Homo sapiens: one gene and its partner. The protein of the gene in region 1 purifies or fractionates together with the protein of each later gene. This does not show direct contact. Each region holds a gene or a part of one and is shown in the gene's direction. Other genes may lie near its edges.

Region 1 (3,500 bases):
CTGTGGGAGGTCCTGGAACTAACTCCCATATATACCAAAGGATGACTGTATATAAAACTAGCCTATAGAAGTTGGAAATCTTTCTAAAATTGAGGCTAACTCTGAAGTTGACTTCCTTTTCACATTATTTTCCCTCTTGATTTGTTTTAATCATTAACCTTATTTCAGATTTTTTGTATTAGATATCAATATCTCCATCATCACTGACTCCTGACACACGCATTCACACACACACACACACACACACACACACCCAGACCCTATGTGGGTCTAGAACTTTGTATTAAGTAGCTGTTTAAACACTTTGTGTACATTCTGCAGTATGCTTGAACTCTGTTGAAAGTATTTCAGTGGTCCCCGTGTGGTGGCTCACTCCTGTAATCTCAACACTTTGGGAGGCCAAAGCAGGCAGATCTCCTGAGGTTAGGAGTTCGAGATCAGCATGGCCAGCATGGCAAGACTTCGTCTCTACTAAAAATACAAAAATTAGCCTGGCGTGGTGGTGCACGCCTGTAGTCCCAGCTACTTGGGAGGTCAAAGCAGGAGAATCACTTGAACCCAGGAGGTGGGGGTTGTAGTGAGCTGAGATTGCACCATTGCATTCCAGCCTGGGCAACAAAACGAGACTCCCTCTCAGAAACAAAAAAGTATTTCAGTAAAATCTATGTATTTGAAATAGAGTCACATAGAAAGTAGAGCACATGGGATCTTCAAAATATATTGGGTAGAAAAATCAGAAAACAAAAATTATTATTCATTCAGAAATAAAGGAGAAGAAAAAAGGGAATAAAAAACTTCAAGGTCAGACTATGTAAAGGTGCCCTGAAGGATACAAAGATTAGAAAGCTTAGACGCTGCTGGATACAGATATGTAAAAGTGTGAGTCAGAATACTGAAAGTACCCTAATAAGTGCTTTACGTTGTAATCACATGGGAGGGATAAATGGGGGTTCAGAAAATTAATGTTTGATGCACTAAGGTAGGAATGGGCCAACTATGGCCTATAGGCCAAATCTGGCCTGCTGCCTGTTGTTACGTCCTGTGAGCTGAGTGTTTTTCTCATATTTAAACGGATGGAGAAGAATCAAAATATTTTGTGACACATGAAAATTAAATGTAATTCAGTGTCCATAAATATTGGCATGCACCCACACTCAGTTTACATACTGCCCAGTTCACCTATTGCCTGTGACTATTTTAGTGTTACAGAGGCAGAGTTCATACTCTCTGGCCCTTCACAGAAAAAACTTGCCAAGCACTGCCTTAAAGCATCTATTGAATATAACGAATTAAGTCTTCTCCTGTTTATCTAGAATGATATCAGCTAAGTACTGTCCTGGGGGAAATTGACAAAACTCATACAAATAATTTTTCTGATAACCCAGGAGCTTGGGTTGAGAAAAACTGGATTAAGTCTTACTGTGACATTGGTAGAAAGGTTATTGAATGTCTGGCACGAGTTGTGCCTTGAAAAAATGGATTTCAACCAAGATTGGCCTGTGGCAATCTTGAGCAACTATGCAGAGACAGGCAGTGGGAAAAACAATTCAGGATGGCAATGGGAGCACATTCTAGAGATTACAGAAGCTGGTGTAGAAAAGCAGGATGAAAAGTTAGGTTGGGGCCAAAAACCAGAGAAGAAAAGTACACTGGAAAAAGGATTGAGTATCAAGTGCTGCAGAGGATCTCAGAGGTCAAGAATTTAGAGCGGAACGTTGAGCTTGGCCTTCAGGAGCATGACTGTGATAAAAGGCCAGCTGTGAAACCTGTAGGAGAAATGATGACCCAGATAGTGCTGAGCAGCCGGCTGGCAGCGTTCTTGGGGTCCCTGTGGGGATGCAGAGTGGTACAACTGCAGATGGGGAAGCAGCATCATTATTAACCTGTGTTTATATGACATTCAGAAAAATATATGATGGCCTTTCTTTCTCTTTTCCTTTAATATTAGTGTTCTAGAACAGATCAGACATTTTGTAATGATGCCTGAAATAAACACTAACCACCTCGACAAGCAACAGGTTCAACTCCTGGCAGAGATGTGTATCCTTATTGATGAAAATGACAATAAAATTGGAGCTGAGACCAAGAAGAATTGTCACCTGAACGAGAACATTGAGAAAGGTGCTGCTTTGAAACAGTCTTTCTTGTAAAGCGATTTGTGTAGGCATTTCCGATTTGCTGAGAAGAGCACTCTGTTCAAGGAAGTGCAGTCTTCAGTAATACCGTATTTTCTCGTTGGTTCCAGTTCGTTAAATAGTGTGGTCATTAGCATCTGCTTTGCTGTCTTCCTGTTACAGCGATTTCTCTTCACTTCATGCCTGTTACTCGGCTTCTTCAGAGTTATTCTGGATTCATAGAAGAGGGACTAGCCCTGACATACAGCAGCAGCCTAGCCTCTAATATTTCTAGAGAGTGGAGAGAGGCGGGCACCATGCAGGGAAGCATGTGCCTTCACCACTTTCCGAGAACTGAATGTCCTTGATAGGGAACTTGACTGCCGGAAAGGGGCCACCAGCATCACCATTTCCTTCACTCGACGGCCAACTTCCTTGCCCAGTGCAGAGCTCTTCCTCACCATAGCCATGCAGAGACTATGCATGTGGATAAACCATGGGAAAAAGCAAAAGCAGCAGCAAGTTACTAATGTTATTCTGAACTGCAGGGAGAGAATTTGGCAAATAACTGGTACTTAAGGCTAAAATAATTGTTATTTCTTTTGCTTTCAGGATTATTGCATCGAGCTTTTAGTGTCTTCTTATTCAACACCGAAAATAAGCTTCTGCTACAGCAAAGATCAGATGCTAAGATTACCTTTCCAGGTTAGTACACTTTTAATGTACAATATTGTGTTTGTACATTAATTTGACTTTTTATCATTCTGAATTCTTGGAGCCAAGGTCACAAAGGGAAATCCTGTGAATGGCATAATTTTATATTCTGCATAAAGTGAGTTTACACAATGAGTGCAACCTAATACAACAGCAAGAAAAAATAAGAACTAGTAAGCAATTGGGCAATATGTATAATTTACATATTTATCTTTAATCTGTATTATCTACACTTTGATCTTTTTTGGTTAAAGAAGTATTAATAAGGAACCTACCTACAAATGTAGTCTGTTTCACAACATAATTACTGATAGCCCATTATAACCAATTTTAAAATCCTTAAAATAATTACTGATAGCCCATTATAACCAATTTTAAAATCCTTAAAATAATTACTGATAGCCCATTATAACTGATTTTAAAATCCTTAAAAATCATTTCATTTTTCAGTTACTTATAAAACTTTTTCTTGATCTTTCAGACCTACTTTGAAGAAAAGTTGATCTGTCTCTGTATTACCATTTTCCAGGTTGTTTTACGAATACGTGTTGTAGTCATCCATTAAGCAATCCAGCCGAGCTTGAGGAAAGTGACGCCCTTGGAGTGAGGCGAGCAGCACAGAGACGGCTGAAAGCTGAGCTAGGAATTCCCTTGGAAGAGGTAACCAGCTCT
Region 2 (3,500 bases), on another chromosome or scaffold:
CACAGTGGAGCAACCAAAGGAGAAATCTCGGCCACACAGGACGTCATGATGGAGGAGGTAATAACAAAATTTGGATTTTTTTGTGACCCCTCTAAGGAACTCTCAGAATATTCCCATCTGTTAAAGTAATGATTAGGAAGCTTTAGTCATGGCAACGAATGTTTAATTGAATTGAAAATTACTTATTTTACACTGAAAAAACTGAGCTTAAAACTTACTTTGCCTTTTAGTGTAGGACTTGGACTTGGATTTTCTAATTCGTAGTTTAGTGGTCTGTATAATCATTCTTTTATCATTTCATAAATATTAAATACCTTCTATGAGTTTGGCACTGAGGAAACAGATGAGAAAGACATAGTCACTGCTCTTAAAGAGCTCAGTCTCTTGGGAAAAAGAAAACACATCTATAATGATGATAAATCCTATGCTAGATGTGTAAAAACTGATTTGGTGGTCATAGAGGAGGGAGTGACTAGCTCAGTGAGCTGAAGCTTTCATAGGGAAGATAGCTCTTGAAAGAGTAGTCAGAATTTACCAGGTAGATAACAAGACCATTCTAGGCAAAAGGAATTGTATGAACAGTGCCATAAACAAAGATAGAACCTTCAGGGAATCATGTGGCTGAAACATAACTTTTTTCAGTATGATGGGTAGCAAATTAAGCTAGAAAGGCAGAGATGTAAGGGATGTTGGATCGATGCCAGAACATTTGGCTTCTTTCTGTAGAAATAAAGACGGAGCTATTGATGGTTATATTTGTTAATGTATGTAAAAACATTTTAGAAAATGTAAAAAGCACTAAAATATGAGGTGGTAATATTATTTATGATCAAGACAGTTAAGAAACTTTATTATTAATACTATCCATGTCCAGAATGAATATGCATAAAACTGCAATTGGTTTGAGGAAAGAATAAATGTTTCCGTTTGTCAGCCAGTAGGCCCTTTATTAGGCTTCCTTTCAAGACTGTATGGAGTTAAAATGGCCTACTTTTTTTCACTGCGATGGAAAACACTAATGCTTCACTTGTGTTTTCCTTTAAATCTTAGAGATGCAGCATAGTGGAGCAGTGGAGTGTGTAATCTCTGAAGTCAGGCTATCTGAGCTCTAGTCTTCTCATTACTTTATATCCTGGGACAAGTTCCTTAAGCTCTAAAGGCTCAGTTCATATTTAACATGTCTAGCCTAGTGCTTGGCACAATAGCTGTTTCTTAAGTATTTGTTGAGTGGACGAATGCAGAAATTTCATTTACCAAATGCATTTAAATAATCTCATTTTTATCTCTTAAATTCTTACAGAAGAGAGGCATCTTAGTATAGTAGGAAAAAATAGGCTTTGGAGTCAGACATACATGGGTTTAAATTCTGACTCTTTTACTTAACAGTCTGTGATCCTAGGTAAGTTACTTAACCTGTCTGAGATTCAGTCAGGATCTGAAATATTTTCCTTATTGGATTTTTGGGGAATCAAGGATTAAATGTAAGCATGCAAGGCATAGTGCCTGGCACGTAGCAGGAGTTCTGTAAATGTTACTTCTTCCCTTCTTGCTTGGAATGACTGTCTTGCAGAGGCTATATCTGCTACATAATTTGCCTTTATTTAGGGTTAGATTAAGATGGTGGGGGCCAGGCACGGTGGCTCATGCCTGCAGTCTCAGCACTTTGGGAGGCCAAGGTGGGCGGATCATAAGGTCAGGAGATCAAGACCATCCTGACCAACATGGTGAAACCCCGTCTCTACTAAAATACAAATAATTAGCTGGGCGTGGTGGTATGCGCCTGTAGTCCCAGCTACTCGGGAGGCTGAGGCAGGGGAATCACTTGAACCCAGGAGGCAGAGCTTGCAGTGAGCCGAGATTGTGCCACTGTACTCCAGCCTGGTGACAGAGTGAGACTCCGTCTCCAAAAAAAAAAAAAAAAAAAAAGATGGAGGTATAGTAGGAATGAAGGTTCTGCAAACAGTTGTGGAAAAGGGCCCAGATAATACTTGCTGTAGATAATAAGCATCCTTTTGGCTTTTGATGTTTGCTTTAATGATCTTTGAACTAATGATGTGTCTAAGATTGATGTCCTCATCATTGGTAGAGCGTGGTAATTGGCTGGTAAGAATTAGGGCAGATATGTTTCACATATTTTTTTCCTCCCCTACTCCTGCCTCAGAGAAATAGTAGATCCAACTTTACCAAATCCTGAGTATGAATGTTTTATAGGATTATTTACTTAATGATTCTACCTAAACTATTTACTACAGAATTCTGTGTGTAAGGGTTTTTTCCCCCTTAGAGACAGAGTCTTGCTTTGTTGCCCAAGCTGGAGTGCAGAGGCGCAGTCATAGCTTACTGTAACTTTCAACTCCTGGGCTCAAATGCTGCTTCAGCCACCCAAGTAGCTGGGACTACAGGTGCATGCCACCATGCCCAGCTCATTTATTAAAAAAATTGTGTAGAGATTCAGTCTCACTATATTTCCCAGGCCGATCTCCACCACCTGGGCTCAAGCAGTCCTCCCACCTTAGCCTCCCAAAGATTGTGCATATTATAAAGTGTGAGCCGCCATACCTGGCCCTGTGTATAAGGTTTTAAAATTTTTACAATCCCCCAAATGACTTCTTTTCATTGAACCTGACTCTTTGGTAATGAAGAGTCTAGCTGCAGTTTTAAAGCCCCAAATTAGTACCTATGATTTGTGTAACCTTGTAGGCAAGTCAAAATGATGGCTTAATCAACAGCCGTGAAGCTCAGATAGCTTTGAATAAAATGTGTTTATGCTAAAGGCATTCTTACTGAGAAGTGAGACGCAGGCTGCTTGTTGAGATGACAGGCAAGGCAGATCTGTTTTGGAGATGTGTAGTTACCTCTATTGCAATGTTATCTCAGTGTCCATTTTTTTAGCCTGCGGATCCCCTTAAGATTATTAATGTATTCTCAGTTGGGCGCAGTGGCTCATGCCTATAATCCCAGCACTTTGGGAGGTCAAGGCAGATGGATCACTTGAGGCCAGGAGTTCAAGACCAGCCTGGCCAACATGGCAAAACCCCGTCTCTACTAAAATACGAAAAAAACATCTGGGCATAGTGGTGCATGCCTATAATGCCAGCTGCTTGGGCAGCTGAGACACAAGAATCACCGGAACCCTGCAGGTGGTGGAGACCAAAATTGTGCCACTGCAGTCCAGCCTGGGTGACAGAGCAAGGCTCTGTCTCAAAAAAAAAAAAAAAAAAAAAACCTTGTCTGTTAAAAAGCAAAACATAGCCAGGCATGGTGGTAACACTTGTAGTGCCAGCTACTTGGGAGGCTAAGGCAGATCACTTGAGTCCAGAAACCCAGGAGTTCAAGTGCTACCTGGGCAACCTAGTGAGACCTCATTTCTAAAATCAATCGATCAGTCAATCAAAGACCAAAACCAATATTTGTCAGTGCCACAAAAAGGGAAAAGAAGCCTTTATGATTGACTTAGGAAATTCTATAGCAGTGGCTGTCAGCTATTGAAAACAATATAT

Evidence for each region. The genes of interacting proteins can lie anywhere in the genome.
Region 2: the proteins of IDI1 (region 1) and BLMH purify together in Homo sapiens (affinity purification with mass spectrometry; one large-scale study listed by BioGRID and IntAct). This does not show direct contact.

Annotation. Positions count from the first base shown.
Region 1 is NC_000010.11:1,042,620-1,046,119, reverse strand, and holds part of IDI1 (isopentenyl-diphosphate Delta-isomerase 1), read left to right. Parts: intron 1-1,918; exon of another isoform or gene 1,919-1,948; coding exon 1,949-2,121; exon of another isoform or gene 2,122-2,610; coding exon of another isoform or gene 2,611-2,632; intron 2,633-2,726; coding exon 2,727-2,819; intron 2,820-3,357; coding exon 3,358-3,488; intron 3,489-3,500. UniProt on the Homo sapiens protein: Catalyzes the 1,3-allylic rearrangement of the homoallylic substrate isopentenyl (IPP) to its highly electrophilic allylic isomer, dimethylallyl diphosphate (DMAPP).
Region 2 is NC_000017.11:30,281,945-30,285,444, reverse strand, and holds part of BLMH (bleomycin hydrolase), read left to right. Parts: coding exon 1-57; intron 58-3,500. UniProt on the Homo sapiens protein: The normal physiological role of BLM hydrolase is unknown, but it catalyzes the inactivation of the antitumor drug BLM (a glycopeptide) by hydrolyzing the carboxamide bond of its B-aminoalaninamide moiety thus protecting normal and malignant cells from BLM toxicity.